Linked DNA regions of Homo sapiens: region 1 is linked to region 2. Evidence: fine-mapped expression QTL. A gene starts in region 2. The other region holds a variant in brackets. All regions are shown on one strand. Distances are between the middles of the regions. Region 1 overlaps CHD3 (chromodomain helicase DNA binding protein 3). Region 2 holds the start of CYB5D1 (cytochrome b5 domain containing 1).

Region 1 (9,033 bases), 36 kb before region 2:
CAGGCCCTACTGTACCCTCATTTTATGCTGGAGTTTTGGCTTTCATGCCCTCATCGTCAGAATCCCTTGAATCCACAAGCTCATTCCCTCACCGGTGTCTCCAGTAGCTTTGCTTATGTTCTTCGTATTCAGGGATATTCATTTCATCTTCCTCCCACGTGGACTGGTCATATGGTAAGTCCCTCCATTTTACTAGATAGTGGTAATTCCCCTTTTTATCCACACTGTGGGGCAGGAGGCCATGGGGAGGAGCAGGAGGAAAATATTGCACAGATCACAAACAGAAAGAAGGCCTGAGAAACGCAATTATCAGCAAACACACAAAATTTGTCACCCAACCGTCAACAGTGAGCTGCTGGAAGGGAGATTGGAATAGTTGACCTAGCAGCCTAACCTTCTCAGGATGGTATCCTAAAAATCAGCTATCACAAAACATTCCTGGAGATCCCTCCTTATCATTTGTTCACCTAATCACTAAGTATTTTCCTCATGGAACTCAGAGTCTCGTGGGGAAGGCAGCATTGAAATAACTAAATACATACCATTAAGTTTAGGCAGTAATAAGTACTATGAAGAAGAAACATTCAAAACACTGGTCTGGATGAATTATGTCTCTCATGTTTTGCTTTCATGCCCTCATCCCCAGACTCATGTGCTATGTCTTATGCCACTGGAGATGACAGGAGGCAAAGGACAAAAGAGGCACTGCCTGGCCGGATTTTCCTCCTGTTTTCTCCCGTTCCCCTGGAGGAAACAAGGCCAGAAAGGCTGGAGCTACAGCAGAGGTTATCAAGGTTAGATCAATTACCTGGTTAATCAGCAAATACTAACATGGGGCCATCACCATGGTAAGAATAATGTCATATACCAGGTCTGACTTCCCAGGGACCGAGGATTCACCTGTGGTTGATGATGCGGTGGACGGTCATCCACTCTGGCTTGATGCCAAAACGATAGTACTTCTCCTCCATCTCAGCATAGTGCGGGTCTTTCACTTTACGCTTGTCGCTCTTCCCATCATCCTCGCCGGAGCCATAGTCCAGGGGTGGGGGCTCATCCATGTCATTCTTCCGCTGGTAGTTTCGATACATAACCAAATGGAAGATTTCCAGCTAGCAGGGCACAGAAAAAAGGGAAAGAGATAGTCCTGACACTCACAGAGGACAACAAGGAACCGGGAAGAGGCCGGCAGGAGGAATGGGACAGGGAAAGGGAGCTATGAAAAAGGATGGATTGGCCCAGGCACGGTGGCTCATGCCTGTAATCCCAGTGCTTTAGGAGGCTCAGGCGGGTGGATCACCTGAGGTCAGGAGTTCAAGACCAGCCTGGCCAACATGGCGAAACCCCGTCTCTACTAAAAATACAGAAATTAGCCAGGTGTGGTGGCGCACGCCTGTAATCCCAGATACTCAGGAGGCTGAGGCAGGAGAATCGCTTGAATGCATGAGGCGGAGGTTGCAGCGAGCCAAGATCACACCACTGCACTCCAGCCGGGGCAATAAGAGAATAACAGGCGCGTCCCAGCACTTTGGGAGGCAGAGGCAGGTGGATCACCTGAGGTTGGGAGTTCGAGACCAGCCTGATCAACATGGAGAAACCCCGTCTCTACTAAAAATACAAAATTAGCCAAGCGTGGTGGCGCATGCCTGTAATCCCAGCTACTTGAGTGGCTGAGGCAGGAGAATCGCTTGAACCCAGGAGGCAGAGGTTGCAGTAAGCCAAGATCGTGCCACTGCACTCCAGCCTAGGCAACAAGAGCGAAACTCCATCTAAAAAAAAAAAAAAATAGAAAAAAAAAGAAAAAGGATGGATTAGAGATAAATGAGTCAAAGCCAAGACGGAGAATAAATAAAATGAAACAGATGCAACAGTTTCAGAAGACAAGGCCTGGGTGGGGCTCTTACAAGCAAGAGATAGGGAATGGGATTAGAAACATTGAGAATTTTTTTTTTTTTTTTTTTTTTTTTGAGATAGAGTGTCGCTCTGTCGCCCAGGCTGAAGTGCAGGGACACGATCTTGGCTCACTGCAAGCTCCGCCTCCCGGGTTCACGCCATTCTCCTGTCTCAGCCTCCTGAGTAGCTGGGACTACAGGTGCCTGCCACCACGCCCAGCTAATTTTTTTGTATTTTTAGTAGAGATGGGGTTTCACCATGTTAGCCAGGATAGTCTCGATCTCCTGACCTCAGGTGATCCGCCCACCTCGGCCTCCCAAAGTACTGGGATTACAGGCGTGAGCCACCACACCCAGCCGAGAATTTTTTTTTAAACAGAGATGGGGTTTCACTATGTTGCCCAGGCTGGTCTCAAGCAATCCTCCTGCCTTGGCCTCCCAAAGTGCTAGGATTATAGGTGTGAGCCACCATGCCCAGCCAGGAATATTATAAAACATGGAAAAAGACAGATAAGGAAGGACATGAAGTTAGGAAAGGCTATGCTATATCTGAGGGAAGGAAGCTAACGGAGACTGAGAGAAAGAGGACTGTAGACCAAAAGAACCACATATGGAAACTAAGCAAGTAGGGTATGAAGGCCACAGGCCTGAAATGAGAGAAAACAAAGAGTATGGGAACCCAACAAACAGAGGAGTAAGAGAGGGAGAGGATGGCAGGAAATGAGGTCATGGGGGAGAGGGAAAGAAAAGGTCCTAGTACCTGAAGCTCCTTGGCCCAGGAGCAGTGCCAGTAGGATAGTCCTACCCACTTGACAAAGAACTCTCGCTCTGATCTGCCTTGAAGAGGACGGGGGGGTGGGACATCTGGATTTCCATCTGCCTGTTGAGGGGCTGGCACTGCTACAGGTGGCTCCCCCCACCGCCAATGTAGGATCTTCTGCACTCGACCCTTCAGCACGGGGCACTTTGGGATGGACACGTACAAGGAGGAGGAAAGAAAGAGGCAGAAAGAACCCATTGTTAGATGAGAAGATAGGGGTCCCACAAGGGTGGGGGAGTGCAGAGAAATGAAAAGCTGGACATGTGGGCCCCAGGGATGGGGGAAGGGATCAGGCCTGACAGTAAATACAGAGGGGAGATGTTTCCACTCACTGTGCATCGGGGACACAGCCATTCACCATTGGGAATGTCAGGCAGGGGAGGGTTTAGACAATGAATGTGGTAGGAGGAGATGCACGCGTCACAGCACAGGAGCTCCCCGCCGTCCTTGCATACGCGGCAGTACTCCATGTGATCATCCTCCTCCTCCTTCTCCCCTTCTTCCTCTCCCTCCTCTTCGTATTCTTCTTCTTCCTCCTTGGCCTCCCACTGGACCCCCTCCTTCTCCTAGGGGGCCAAGGATAGACACACAGACAGATGGAAGAAATTAAGGAATGAAACTGGAAGATACAGGCAAAGACAGGACACCTGAATCCTAGAAGTGCAGAGAAGACTGGTGGGAACTAAGGAAAAGGACACTCCAGTTTCAGAAATGTTGATTGTGGGAGAAAGGAATACATTAGGATCCTAGACACTCGGACATCTGTTACTAAGAAGTCCAGCCATCTGGGGGCAGGAAGAGGGTAAGTGAAACCAAGGGGGAAAGAGATGGGTGGGTTCCTCAGGGCCATCAGATGCTGGCATTAGGTACTCACACAGTGAGGGCAGCTCCATTTGCCCTCTGGAGCCCGGTCAAGCTCAGGATCAAGGCAGACGAGGTGGTAGGCACGAGGGCAGGTGTCACACAGAATAATTTCCCCACCCTGCTGGCACACCTCACAGTAATCCTGGTGATCCGTCTCGTAGCCATCAACCTCCTCCTCCCCGGCCACTGCAGGACAGCCCAGGACTGTCATATACCCCGGTGGAGGGATAAGGAAGCAGGGCAGGGGGAGATGGAGAGAGAGAGGGAGAAGGGTTGAAGAGAGAAGTCAAAATTGAAAATAAGAATGAGAGGACGGCCCACTGACAGGATCACACACAGTCAACACTCCTTACCCTTCTTCTTCTTCCTTCCTGGCCGGCCTCTCTTTAGTTTCTTGGTGCGGACAGGGCCATCAGGCCGGCCTGAGGCACTGTGGACACTGCCACTGTCCAGGTCTGATTCCTCAGCCTCTGGTTCAGGACCTTCGTCGCTCTGAAAAACATACTGCCCATAGCCCCGTGGCCGTCAGTGAGGCAGACTTCATTCTACGCCCTCCCCAGGCCTTTGGCTTCCTGTTCCGCCATCCCTCACGGATCCCTGTCTCTGGATCCTTGGCCCTCACGGATCCCTGTCTCTGGATCCTTGGCCCCCAGGTGTTTAGTAGACAGGGACGGGTCACTCACCGAGCCTCCTTTCTTCCTCTTGCCACCCAGAAGCCCTAGTTTTATTTTGAGTGGTGCCATTTTCTTTCCCCGAAGCTTCTTGCGTCCATCAGGCACTCGGGGGCTCTTACTCCGCCTCTTATGGCCTGGACCTGAATGAGGAGTCGGGGTGAGAAGAGGAAAAAGGAGAGGTCATGACATCCTGGAATTATGGAGGTCACAGGGGCCTCTGGATTCCTCTGTGGGCTGTGGTTTCACTAAGCCCCACTTCCTGGAAAGCATCTCTCCTCCAGCAATCAGGGCTGGGAAGGCGAGAGTTCCAGACTCTAATGTGAAGACATGCAGTTTGGAAGGTGAGATGACAGTTGTTGGAAGAG[A/T]GTTCCCTACCTTTGCCCTCTTTGGTTTTGGCTCTTCGGATGGGTGGGGGCTGGATATCAGCAGCAGGGGGTGGTGGAAGGGCGGGGGGTCCGGAGGGTGCTATGGGGGTGGCCGACGAGACAGCAGCTGACACCTGCTCAGCTACAGCTGCTGCTGCTGCTGCCGCTGCCGCCGCCACAGCAGCTGCTGACCCCTTGAAGGGGTTGTTGGCACTGAACTCTCTCCATTTGGCCCCAAGGATGGTCATCATCTTAGACATTGGGATCTTAGGATTCTTCTTAGCAATTAGGGGCCTGTAAATATAGAAGCAGAAAACTCGGACCCTTCACAGATGGTCTGGGAACACTGCCATCTCCCCTCATCAATTAAATCTATGTACATGCTAGGATTCCTGGGTGGTGAGAATATGTCCTATTAGGAAAAACAGCCATTTAAAAAAATAAATAAAAAGAAGTTTAAAAAAAGCGGGGAAAGAACAGGTTTAAAAAAGCATTAAAAAAGAAATACAGGCCAGGCACGGTGGCTCATGCCTGTAATTCCAGGCTGAAGCAGGAGGATTGCTTGAGCCCAGGGCTATGAGATAAGCCTGGGCAACAAAGTGAGATCCTGTCTCTACAAAAAATTAAAATAAAAAAAAATAATTAGCTGGGTGTGGCAGCACCTGAGGCTGAGGCAGGAGGGTGGCTTGAGCCCAGGAGTTGGAGGATATAGTGAGCTATGATCACACCACTGCAGTGCAGCCTGGGTGACAGAATGAGACCCTGTCTTTAAAAAAAGGGAAATAGGCTGGGCGCAGTGGCTCACGCCTGTAATCCCAGTACTTTGGGAGGCCAAGGTGGGAGGATCACGAGGTCAAGAGATGGAGACCATCCTGGCCAACATGGCGAAACCCCGTCTCTACTAAAAATACAAAAATTAGCTGGGTGTAGTGGTGCGCACCTGTAGTCTCAGCTACTCGGGAGGCTGAGGCAGAAAAATTGCTTGAACCTGGGAGGCAGAGGTTGCAGTGAGCCAAGATTGCGCCACTACACTCCAGCCTGGCGACAGAGTGAGATTCCATCTCAAAAAAAAAAAAAAAAAAAGGGGAAATAAAAAACAGCGAAATAAAACTTAAAAGCATAAAAGGTTAAAATAAAATCAACAAAAATGCTTTACTTTTGTATACTACTTTACAGTTCATAAAACCCTTTCACATACATTCCACCTTATCTTGTCCTCACAATAATACTCTTGAGTTGCTATGATTCTCTGCATTTTACTAGTAAGTTCCATGGGCCCTGAAGATGGGCTTCCGTAGGACGGAGTGTGAAAGAGTCAGACCATGCTGGTTCTGCTCTGGGGTGGGGTGCTCAACTCTTGTGCGGACACGGGTGATCCATGGTGCTGAGAAAAGCCCCAAGTTCAGCAGTAAGGTAGGTGAGACAACGTTACTAATGACAGTCACCAGTTACTGAATGCTCCCTAGGAGCCAGGCACTGACGGTACTGTGCTTTCCATTCATTATCCCACCAAACCCACACAGATTCCTATGAGGTATATATTATTATTCCCCGTTTATAGAAGAGGAAATTGAGGATTGAAGAAGTTCAGTCACTTGCCCAAAATGTAACCAGATGTGAACCTCAGCAGCTGCCTCCAGAGCACTGAACTGATATGTTAAAGTGCCTTCTCCCCAAAACAAAATACATCGGCACTATTTTTTCTTTTTTTTTTTTTGAGACGGAGTTTCGCTTGTTGCCCAGGCTAGAGCATAGCAGTGGTGTGATCTCGGCTCACTACAACCTTTGCCTCCCGGGTTCAAGCGATTCTCCTGCCTTAGCCTCCCGAGTAGCTGGGATTACAGGCATGTGCCACCACGCCCAGCTAATTTTTTTGTATTTAGTAGAGACGGGGTTTCACCATGTTGGATGGGCTGGTCCTGAACTCCTGACCTCAGGCGATCCACCTGCCTTGGCCTCCCAAAGTGCTTGGATTACAGGCATGAGCCACTGCACCTGGCCCATCTCTGCTATTTTCTACTCTACTATTCTCTACTTTTCTTCAGGAGCCACTGAAGCTCAGGTCCCACTGCCAGCAGTGGACCCTCCATTATTACCAGGGCCTAAGGAAGGGGCACAGGACCTGCTAAGTGAGCTAAGGAAGTTCAGGAACACTGATGGTATCTCTCAGGTCCAGTCTAGAGAGAAGTCACAGAGCAGAAGATGGAGCTGTTGGGGCAGGGGAGGGCTCACTATATTCTGTCCTCACTTTATTCTGTTGCTAAAGAGTTCTCTAACCCAGCACTGGAATCATGATGGCCCCTCCACCCCTCGCCCCTCAGTGAAGAGTTCTCAACTGGGGTTCTTGGATCCTTATGAGTCTAGGAGTTCCCTGAAATGACGTGTAGAATTTGGTGTGTATACACCGTGAATTCTCTGGAGAGCAGTTTCATAGCTTTCATCAGATTCCAAGGGGTCCAGGACCTCCCTCAAATTAAAAGTGTCAATTAGCGAGGATTCCCCAGTCTTACCGCACCTCATGAACTGGCTGAAGGCTTTGTAGTTGGTGAGCGTGTGGTAATCCTCCTCAGAGAACACATGCTCCACATCCTCCAGGCCCCAGGTCAGAAGCAGAGTTGCTGATGACTTCTGTTCCACTTGCTGCGGGAGAGGGGCTTTGGTGAAGTAGGTGCTCCTCCAGCCCCTATTCCAGGCCGCACACAGGCCTGTCTACCTACCCACTAGCTTCCCTGGGCTTTCTTGCTTCTTGCCCCATTCTCCAGTCCAGTCTCCATTCCTCCCCTCCTCATGCCCGTCTTTAATGCAGATTTCTCACTCTCATTCCCTAATTCTACTCACCTTTTGCCCCCCATCTCCCTCCCCCTTTTTCCGCCGCTTTGTCTTCTTCTCCTTTTTTTCTCGGTGCTTCCTTCTTCGTTTCCGACCCGGTCCGGTTCCATATTCACTGCCCCCACTCTCTGACTTCTCCCGGTACTCATCTCGCTCAGAACCAAATTCCTCCTCACTGTCCTAAGAGAAAGAAATAAAAATAACATTTATTCATCCCTACCATTGCCAGAAACTGTTCTCAGCACATACCATATCTTACCTCTTTTAATCTTCACAACAATCCTGTGATAGTAACTAATTTTTTATCTCCTTTTTTTTTTTGGAGATGGAGTCTTGCTCTGTCACCCATGCTGGAGTGCACTGACGTGATCTCGGCTCACTGCAACCTCCACCTCCCGGGTTCAAGCGATTCTCCTGCCTCAGCCTCCTGTGTAGCTGGGATTACAGACGTACCACCGCGCCCGGCTGATTTTTGTATTTTTAGTAGAGACGGAGTTTCACCACATTGGCCAGGCTTGTCGCGAACTCCTGACCTCAAATGATCTACCCGGCTCAGCCTCCCAAAGTGCTGGGATTACAGGCGTGAGCCACTGCAACCGGCCTTTATCTACTTTTTACAGATGAGGAAACTAAGGCACAGAGAGCCAAATAAACGGCCTGGTATCCTAGACAGAGGAATGCTGGACTCTTGAATTCATACAGTCTTCCAGAGCTTGTGCTTTCAACTGCTTCTCTTTGCTGCTGAGGACACACTGACAACGAGGCTCTTCACTAGGTTGCAGTGAATGAAGTTAGGGTCCCAGATCCCTGAGATACAGGCCAACAGTGGCAGGGAAGTGGGGGGCCCGGGGGATCAAGCCTCCCTGGCTTCAGAACCCCACCCCCACACCAGTAATCAGGACCAGAGAAAATGTAGGTCTCTGAGAATGGGTCTCTTGAGCCTTGCCACAGAGTTAGGAATTCTTGACACTTACACGCTTCTTGCGTTTTCGGGGTTTTCCTGGCTTGTTCTCCTTCTGCTTCTTGGGTCCTCGTTTTCTCTTCTTCACACCCAATGCTGACGGCAGCAGCCGAATGTCATCCTTATCTTTGAAGCAAAAAGCATCAGAAAACCTAAGCCTCTAGGTTTCCAGCCTCTGAGGCCCCTCAACTTGCCCCTTCCCCACCTCGGCAGTTCCCACTCTCTAGGAAGCATTAACTCCTCCAAGCCCTGCCTCCCTTCACTGGATGCAAACAGAAAGTGTTTCGAGTACTCTGGGATGCTCTGGTTCTGAATGGGAGGTCAGGGGTCAGAAGAGAAGAGCAGCCAAACCACTCCCCTCCCTCCCCTCCTACTAACAAGAGACCAGGCTCCAGGCCATGGGCTCTGACTGTGGCAGGTCCTTTCAGTCACCGCCAGGGCTCCTCCTGCCTTCCCCCTCACTTCGCCAGCTGGCATCCTGCCCAGGAACTGGGGAAGCCATGCCCAGCTGCTGGCCTGGCCTGACCCCAGCACTTGGAGTGGGGAGACACAAGCTGGCAGCTCCCTAAGCCAGATGCTGGGGAGGGAGAGCCAAAGGTGGACACCTGGGTTCTCACACTAACACCCT
Region 2 (8,947 bases):
GGATAGAGACTATAGCACAGGAACCAGACATCCTATTTCTTGGTCCTTCCTTGCCTACTAGGACACAACATCCCCCCCACTAGGTATAGACGGATGAGTTCACTTAACATTGGAGTTCATTCAAAATTTATTGAGCTGCAACTGTGTGCTCAGCAATGAGAATATAGCAGTGAGCAAGATGTGAACAAGATCTCTGCCCTCGTGAGCTTACAATCTAGCAGCGCAGCCAGCCTATTACAGCCATAATTTTACAATTGTAATAAAAACTCTGGAAAATGCATGGTGCTAACTGATTTATCAGAAAGTCTTGACCCACCAAGAAATCAGAAAAGACCTCCCTGAGGAAGGAACATTTAGGATCAGCTAGGTGGAAAGTGAAAGGAAGAGTGTTGCAGGCAGAGAGGACAGTGTGTGAGGGTCTGAGGCAAGACATGTAATGAACTGAAAGCCAGTGTGTCTAGGCCATAGAGAACAAAGAGGGGTGTTGCGAGATGAGCCTGATTTATACAAGATCTTTGAATTTAGGACTTTATTCCAAAAGCAGTTGGAAGCCACTGAAGAAGCTAAGGAAAGTTCGATGTTTAGGTTTGTTTTTCATAGCTGACTCTCATTGCAGCATGGAAGTCAGAAGTGGAAATGGGAGAACAGGTTAGGAAGTTTCCGTAGCAGTTTAGACAAGAGGTGATGGTAACTTGGAGAAAAGAAGATAGGTTCCAGAGATATTTAGGAGACAGATTACACTTGATGAGTGACTGGATGTGTGAGGAAAGGGATGTGTTTCTAGCAAGAGACATTGAAGTAGGAGTCTCTGGAAGAGGGACAGGTTTTGGCAGAATGGGGACATCCTGTAGGCACAGGACAGGCCCTGAGGCTTGCACTAGAGGAACAGCATAGCTTTCATTCTCAAATAGTTCAGGGTTTAATTGAGCAAACAAGGTACACATAATTGCAGAGTTGATTAAAGATCAAAATGATCGATTTAGATAATTCATGGACTCCTGCATTCCATGGGGTTAGATTTAAACCCTCCATCTCACAGTAAATTCAGATACTGCCGAAGCCAACAGCAATGTTTCCACCTTTGTTCATGCCTCCCAAAGCCCCTCAGAAAATGCCTATATAGCCCACCAGTATCTCACAGGGGCCACCTTCTCCTGTGCTGGGCCCTGGTGTCCCCTGCCAGAAGACACACTAAACTCTTCCTGATTTGTTTTTTGCTTGCTGCTGCCAGGAAGTTCAACTGTCTGTCATTCTCAAATCTCCCCTCCTTAAGTTAAAGGAGACCAAATCTAGCCATTACCCCCAATAGTGGTTCTCTTTTGGTCACCAGGAGAGTTTTCTGACTTAGTTAGCATCTCTGTTTACATTACCCCTGTCGAGCTCCCTCTTTTGGAGTCACCGTCTTGCAACCCTGTCTTCCTCATCTTCTCCAAGTGGCAAACTGCCTCCTTTTTCTCCCTCGCCAAAGTGTCACTAATTTGCCGGCCTTTTCCCCACTCTAGTTTTCCTTCAAGTTAGTAAATACCCACCTCTTTGCCCCAAAAGGTCAGGAGAGAAATCTGGGGTATGGGATTAACAAAGAAGTAGCCCCAATAGCTATTGCTTAACTGACACTTAGCCTTCCTTGCCTCCTCTTCGCCACAGGAGAACTCTGCAAACTCCCTTCCAGAGACAATAACTGCAAACTATACAATAGGACCACAATTTCCTATTGTGCAGGGATCCTAGGACAAAGCCACATCCCAAATACTTGCTGAGAGCAGTGGCTACAAATGTTAACATGAGATTAGACATTGAGATGGTCCCTTTATATTGAGAGAACATGGACTTTGGAGTTGGGCAGACTTGAATTTGCATTCTGGCTCTAGTGGTTACTACCTAGTGTGGCTTTGAGCTATTAAACTTTCCAAAGTTTCGAAGGACTTATCTGTAACATAGTAATGGTAATCCACCTTATGGGGTAGTTGTCTTGAAGAGGCTATTTGGGAGGCTGAGGCAAGAGGATCACTTGAGGCCAGGAGGTTGAAACCAGCCTGGGCAACACAGCGAGACCCTGTGTCTACAAAAAATTAAAAAATTAGGCATTGTGGCGTGCACCTGAAGTCCCAGCTACTCAAGGCAGAGATGGGAGGATCACTTGTGCCCAGGAGCTCCAGGCTGCAGTGAGCCATGATTTTGCCACTGCACTCCAGACTGGGTGACAGAGCAAGACCCCTTCTCTTTGTTGGGGGCAAAAAAAAAAAAGAGGGTATATGAAGTACCTAGTATAATATCTAGCCTGAATTGCCTATAATGACGCACTTCCTTTCTTTCCCTTGGGTTTCAGCTGCCAAACACTCTTCTACAAGTAAGATAAGCCAGCTTTGTATGGTCAATGATAAACATTTCCTATTTCTTTGTAAATCCCATCTTCCTGCAGACATCTCATTTCCATCATTGCCAAAAAAGTCCTTCCATCCCTCACCCCTGTAGAACTACTCTCTCTTAACTATCAAACAGTTCTGCCTGAACTCTGACTATCCTCTTCTACATCTCCCTAAACCAAGGTACTTGATCTTCTTGTATCATTCCCAAAGATTAATTCACTAATTTTCTCAGAGCAAACTGTAATGAAGGCAGGGAATAGGGCCTTTACACTTCAGAAGGGCACAGGCTAGCTCCTGGAGAGGAGTGGAGATCTGGGTCCAGGCACCCCTCGGCCCCACCACTTTTCCTCAAGGCACAGAAAAAGCCAAACTCGAAATACGTCTTGAGTCTACACGAGTGTACATCTCCTTGCCTACAACTCCGTGAGATCATCATTGAAGTACAGAAGTATTGCAGGTGTGTGAAGTGTACCGTCCATACTGAGATAGTCAAATTCTTCCTCCTCATCCCGGATCCCATTCTCTTCCAGGGTAAAATCCATGTTCAGGTTCTTCCCTTCATATTTCCACGTGTAGCTGGCAGCATGTGAGTTATAGGGGAGATAGCGGTGTAGGATTTCCCATATGGACTCCAGAACCCCCACCTGGAGAACACAGAAGCACCCCACCCCCAGAATTCTGGATGGAGTATACATATACACACGCTGGGATCAAAGTGCCTCCCTTGGCAGATAGCAGCTTCAGGTACTCTACGGCCCCGGGAAAAAAAAGCTGAAACTCCAGCATGCAATGAGCAGACCCTAAAGTCCTACAGATCTTAATGGCAGCCACTTCTAACTACCGGATGGCCATAAAGGGTCAACTGTCCCCTCACTATATCCATGCAACAGAGTAGATTAAAAAGAAAGTCCAATTGCTGTCCAAAACGGCGTGTAAGAGCTTCGAAGGACCACCATCACTAAGATACATGAACTGCTGTTCCCAGGCTTATAAAGGAGTCTCTTGTCCCCCTGTGACCCAGACACTCCTAGAATTCCCAACCCTGGGGACCTAGGTGCTGTGCTTTCCTCAGTTGCCTCAATGTAAAGGACAGAAAATACACTCCCACCGGTTATGGAAAAAATGTTGCCCTGAAGATCGGCCTGGAGATTTGCTGGGATTCCCCATTCCTTCTAACCTGCTCCTTGTCACCAGTTCTCACCTCCAGTGTGTGCTCCTGCGACGTGAGCGTGTTAATGATGCGGATGCTCCGGGTCTTGGCAGACAGCCGCCCCACCTCATAATACGACCCCTGCCACCAGGGCTTCCCAAAATCGTTGGCCCAGTCCGAACAGGGCAGCTGAGGCGGAACGTGCACAAAGCGGCCCCGCGGGGTGCAGTACCTCAGGCAGCCGGTCAGCGGATCTATGTGCTTGCGGATCTTTAAAGGAGGGTTTGGGGCGAGGGTGTCAGAGCAGCCATTAGGCTCTGGCTAGCCTCCGCCTTTCCTTCCCATCCCCGCTCTCCATTTCCTCTACCCACAATCCCAGGTTCCAGCATAACTCACGTCTCTGGTCTTTGGATCAAACCAGTGGCTGATATCCTGGCCTGCAACTTCCACGATGGGTTTCAGCAGCAGGTTCCCTTGAAAAGAGCAGCACAGCCACTGTCAATGCCAGCCCTTCGAGAACCAGGCAAACGCGCGCGTGCACACACACACACTCCGGCCCCGGCCCAACGTGTGGCCCTTACCCTTGTATTCCTGTGCCAATGACGTTAGGTCGTACACGCGTCCCAGGTAAGATACCCAGAGGTCTTCGGGCCTGTTATGTTGGGCCACCTCCGCCGGCGTGAAATAGCGACGCTGAAAATACTCCAAGTCTGGCCCAGCCACCAGGCCCCGGCGCGGCATGGCTCTTGCTCTGTCGGTCACTGGATCTCTTGGTTACTCCTTTGCTCCTCAGCACGTACTCACTACTACTACGACCTCCGTCGCGTCCGGGAGCCGAGGGGAGAGCGTTTATCCGCTGACATGGAAACCATTGTCCTTTTCCGGCCACCGTCCACTGAGATAAATATCAGGGGCGGGGTTTGGACTGCACGTGTTCACGGGAAACGTAGTATGAGTCCCGCGTGGGGCATATAAGGATCAAGTAATTGAGTTGCGCCGCTTTCAGGAGTTGCGGGGTGGGGCAGAGAACGAATACGCTCCGTTTTAATTCAGTGGCCTGGGCTACATGGGATATTTAGGACAGACTATCTCTCTGAGACAGAAAAACAAGGGAGGAGGCAGTATGAAAGAATGTATTCTCGCTAAATTCCAGTTTCTAAAGGATGTGTAAGAAACCAGAGGTAAAGGTCTCGCGATATCTTAAGACATCCGGCGTAGTACGCTTCAGTGAGCCACAGCGCTAGAGAAGTAGGAGAAGCTCGCGAGATCTGTGCCGTTGCCGAGGAGACTAGGAGGGGGAGGAGAGGGGATCTCGCGAAAGGAAAGAGGTCGGGAGCGCTCGCGAGATCTCGGACCACCCAACCTGAAAGGTGCTTAGGAAGTTGAAAGGCCCAGAGGAGGCCTCCGGGCAAATGGCCGGAGCTGGACCGACCATGCTGCTACGAGAAGAGAATGGCTGTTGCAGTCGGCGTCAGAGCAGCTCCAGTGCTGGGGTTAGCACGGGCTCTGGTTCTGGGACTGAGGGGCAGTCAAGCAGCAAGATGGAGGGGGTGGGGAACTGCAGCTCCCGGCAGCCTCTGGGCTTTGTGTGAGTGCCCCGCGGGCTGCCGGGAGCTGTGGTTCCGCGGGCGGGCAGCCTGGGCTGCGCGGTCTGAGCGCTTGTTACACCCCGCGCAGGATTCGGACGGAGAGCGCGAGGACTCGGCGGCTGAGCGCGCCCGACAGCAGCTAGAGGCGCTGCTCAACAAGACTATGCGCATTCGCATGACAGATGGACGGACACTGGTCGGCTGCTTCCTCTGCACTGACCGTGACTGCAATGTCATCCTGGGCTCGGCGCAGGAGTTCCTCAAGCCGTCGGGTCAGTGCCCGGGGAATGCACACCCGCCTGGTAATGTGGCGGAACCTTACGCAAGGCATTTCCCCTTAAGGGCCTGGCTGCAACCCTTGTTTTCTGGGGCTCGTTTTCGTGGCTCAGAGGGGCGGGACTGATTCTGGCCTACTTTCCTGATGCTCTGATCCTTCTTTCCAGATTCCTTCTCTGCCGGGGAGCCCCGTGTGCTGGGCCTGGCCATGGTACCCGGACACCACATCGTTTCCATTGAGGTGCAGAGGGAGAGTCTGACCGGGCCTCCGTATCTCTGACCACGATGGCGCTTACCTTTCAGACTTCATTAAACTTATGACCGAATGGGCCTGTGTCTGTGTGTAGCTGGGATGCCGGTGCAGGATAGCACACCCCATCCCTAGAGGAAAGGGCTCATCTGAAGTCGGGAGCACCCTCAACCCTCCTCTCCCAACCAAGATGTCCAGGGGTGCCAAAGGTTCTCTCAAGTTCAGGGGTAGAGATGGGGGGCAGGGCTGAATGACGGACCAACAGGCCCCAGGGTGGGCCCCTGCATCTTCCCTCCCACGGCTGCTGCTCCAGAATTGTGGCGGGAGGGGGTGTCATCCTGCTCCGGAAGGCCCATTGTTTCCCACCCCGGCCTGGCAACACCGAGTTCCTCTAAGCTGGGGTCAGAGAACGGGCTCAGGTCCCCAAGGGGAGCAGCGGCAGGCGGCCGAGGCTGGGCCCCTCCACTCTATTGAGGGGGAGGTGCCTGGGGTCAGGAACAGATCTCTGAGGTCTGGCCAGGAAGAACGGACAAAAGCGATAAGGCCAGGGGGCTCAAGGATGCTCCTCTCTGCTCATTTGTAGCCCTGGCACATGTTTCCTGTTCCTCGGCACAGGGCAGGGGTGATAGTACTTGTGCCACGCCTCTGTTCGCAGAGCGCGTTCAGTTCGTTAAATCTTTATTGATGCGTGGACACTCCTTCCCCTCCAGCCCCGCCCCCCAGCCCCAGAAATACTAGAGAAGCTGCACCATAAAACGAGGGCACGAGATTGTTGTCCCATTCACGACGGAGCTGAGGGGGAGGTGTGCAGGTTCCAGCCTAGATGTTCAGGATTGAGATGTGGGTCGTGAAAGGAAAGTGGGTTTTCCGGGATGTGGGGGCTTTTCTCAGCACTGGGTCCACTGACGCTGCTGCTCCCAAGGGGATGCTAGGACTCCGCTCAGGCAGGGGTGGGGGCAGGGCAGGTCGGAAGATGCCGGGCTTCAAGTCCTTGGGCCGAATAAGAGGGAGGGCAGCCGTCAGGGTTGTTCTTGACTCGAGGGTCATTAGACCCAGACCTTTCCTGATGTGGGAACGGCCTGGGACCCTGGTGAGGCCCGGATTTGCCGCGGCTGCGGGGCGCGCCGACGCCGATAAAGGGCTCGGCTGTAGGGCACGAGGCAATCGGCTAGGCGGAGGCGCAGGCAGAGGCGGCGGTAGCTGGCCAGAGCAAGCACGAGCAGCGGCACGAGGAGCAGGAATCCGGTGACCAGTAGGGCCGTGAAACCGGGGTCCCGCAGGTGCGCGGTGCAAGGGGGTGCCTGGGAGCGCAGGAACTGTGGGAGAAGAGGCGTCAGGCCCAAGCCGACCAGGCGATACTGTGCACGGGGTGGAAACAGCCCAGGCGGGTTGAAGTTGTGGCCCATAGACCCCACCGCCAGCATCACCACACACCAACACTCACACTCACACGCACACCCCGGGGCGCACGCTCACCTGAGAGTGGCAGAGGAAGCCGAAGCCCAGCATGGTGACAGCGGGTAGCAAGATGGTCCCTAGCACCAGCACCAGCAGGAGAAGATTGAAGGCAGCCACCAGCAGATTCTGGGCTGTTACAAGAACAGCGCAGGCCCAACAGTCCAGGGGGTCCCGGGGCTCTGGGCCGTCACCAGGAACCGCTCGCTGTGCCCCGGGGACATCCGCCATGGCCCGCCTGGATCCCGCCCGCCTGGGCCGCTGCCCTTATAGCCCTCTTTCCTGCCCCTCCCCCGGCCCAGCCTCTCCCCACCCCCCTTATCCTGGAATGCGGCTCTAGGATTAGGCACCCCCCATCCCGAGGAGCGGACCAGAGCCCTGGACATTCCACAGGCGCCTCCGGGGAGGGGCTCACCCTCGCCAGGGTCTGCGCAGTCCTCCCCATCAATCACGGTCTTGCAGCCCTCCCGGTACTCAACCTGCTACCACCAGCCGTTAGCGAAACAGGATTTTTTTTCTCCGTTTATTTTTAATATTAATATTCTCACACAAAAATCACCGAAAATAGGGGTAGGGTTGGGAAGACCCCTCTGCCCCTGGGGCAGAGAGACAGTGCAGTGCGAGGGTGCGGGACTGTAAACCCCCCACCCCTCCGCAGCCCCAGCGTGGAGAAAAAACAACCAACAAAACGAAAATAAAGCCCCAGAGAAACTCACCCCGGGGTGTCCCTGCCCCAGTGAGGCCCTGGCCCTGGGTTGTTTCACACTTAAAAAGAAAAGGGGGTGGGGGTGAAGGTCTGTGTTTTTTAAAGTTGGCCGGGGCTGGGAAGGACGGGGTTCCTTTTCCTCATAGTTCTTTCTTTAAAACCTTTAATTTTTTTATTTTATTTATTTTTTTTACAAAATACCATTTCAGTTCCCACTTCTTCCCCTACAGTACAGGAGTTGCTCACCCTCAGGTGGGGCTGGGGTCGGGTCGGGAGTGGGGGGACTGGTCCGAGAAAGTGCAGGACGTAGGGGAGGGGAGCGGGTTTGAGCACCATGAGAACCCGGCTGGAGCCGCGGGCGGACGGGTGGAGACGGTCGGGCCGGGCCCGGACACACACTGGGGCGCGGGGAGAGCCCGGCGACGGGCGGTCCCTGGAGGGGCGGGCAGGATGGCTTGGGGGTGTGGGAGGTCGGGTTTTCCCAAAAATGAATAAATAGAGGTGAGTGGGACTGTTATAAATTAAAAACAAAAAAACAAGAAAAGAACAAAAAATACAAATCATAACCAAGTGAATAAAGAGACATGTACAGGGGTCACAGCTAGCATTGGAAGTAAAAAAGGAGGTTCCGGGGGAGGGGTAAAGCCCATAGAAAGAATCTCATTAAAAACCTCGGCTGCCGTAACGTCTATGTACATACACGAGCCGCGTGCATCTGCGCCGGGCGGGCGGGCGGCTGGCAGGGTGAGGGAACCCGTATGTGACCCCCGCCGCCGCCGGAGCCTGGTCCTTGTGTCTGTTGCTAAAAAGGCCAAAGTCGGTGAGGGGAGGCGCTGGTGGGCGAGGGGCTGCCAGCCCCCTCCCCCGTCTCCCATTTTTTTTCCTTTTTTCCTCATATTTGCTAAAAAAAAAAAAAAAGTTTTTCTTAATAAATTAAGTGAGGGGAGCTGCCAATGGGGTGGAAGGGCTGGGCCCGACCCCCTTCTCGGCCACAGGCGGGACCTAGGTCCAGCCCAGGCATGTGCTGGTGGCCCCGCGGCGCCTTGCGCGGGCAGGCAGGCGGGCGGGGCGTCCGGCCTCATCGCGACGTGCTGGCTGGGGCCTGGGGGGAGAAAGCCGGCGGGGGCTCAGGGAAAGGCGCGGCCGGGCTCCCGA

Evidence for each region.
Region 1: its variant is fine-mapped to the expression of CYB5D1 in whole blood (TOPMed, PIP above 0.99).

Annotation. Positions count from the first base shown.
Region 1 is chr17:7,889,162-7,898,194 of GRCh38, reverse strand. CHD3 (chromodomain helicase DNA binding protein 3) reads right to left here. Exons shown (of 40, transcript NM_001005273.3): 2 at 8,419-8,531; 3 at 7,454-7,624; 4 at 7,131-7,255; 5 at 4,626-4,909; 6 at 4,260-4,390; 7 at 3,930-4,080; 8 at 3,587-3,780; 9 at 3,045-3,278; 10 at 2,653-2,856; 11 at 901-1,112; 12 at 93-224. Among named protein-coding and RNA genes, the nearest start is that of CHD3, 4.9 kb to the right of the region's middle. RefSeq lists enhancers at 3,248-4,447, 8,405-8,974. The variant A/T (reference allele first, on the strand shown) is at 4,616.
Region 2 is chr17:7,853,445-7,862,391 of GRCh38, reverse strand. CYB5D1 (cytochrome b5 domain containing 1) reads right to left here and starts at 4,389. Exons shown (of 4, transcript NM_144607.6): 1 at 4,098-4,389; 2 at 3,913-3,989; 3 at 3,568-3,786; 4 at 110-3,010. The coding sequence starts at 4,257. The coding sequence ends at 2,780. It overlaps KDM6B (lysine demethylase 6B), which reads right to left. Exons shown (of 24, transcript NM_001348716.2): 24 at 7,596-8,894. The coding sequence ends at 8,871. TMEM88 (transmembrane protein 88) reads right to left here and starts at 7,326. Exons shown (of 2, transcript NM_203411.2): 1 at 7,108-7,326; 2 at 6,293-6,947. The coding sequence starts at 7,317. The coding sequence ends at 6,678. NAA38 (N-alpha-acetyltransferase 38, NatC auxiliary subunit) reads left to right here and starts at 4,833. Exons shown (of 3, transcript NM_001320925.4): 1 at 4,833-5,009; 2 at 5,194-5,377; 3 at 5,549-5,707. The coding sequence starts at 4,929. The coding sequence ends at 5,661. RefSeq lists enhancers at 3,412-4,273, 4,079-4,298, 4,627-4,921, 4,649-5,018, 4,274-5,136 and 3 more.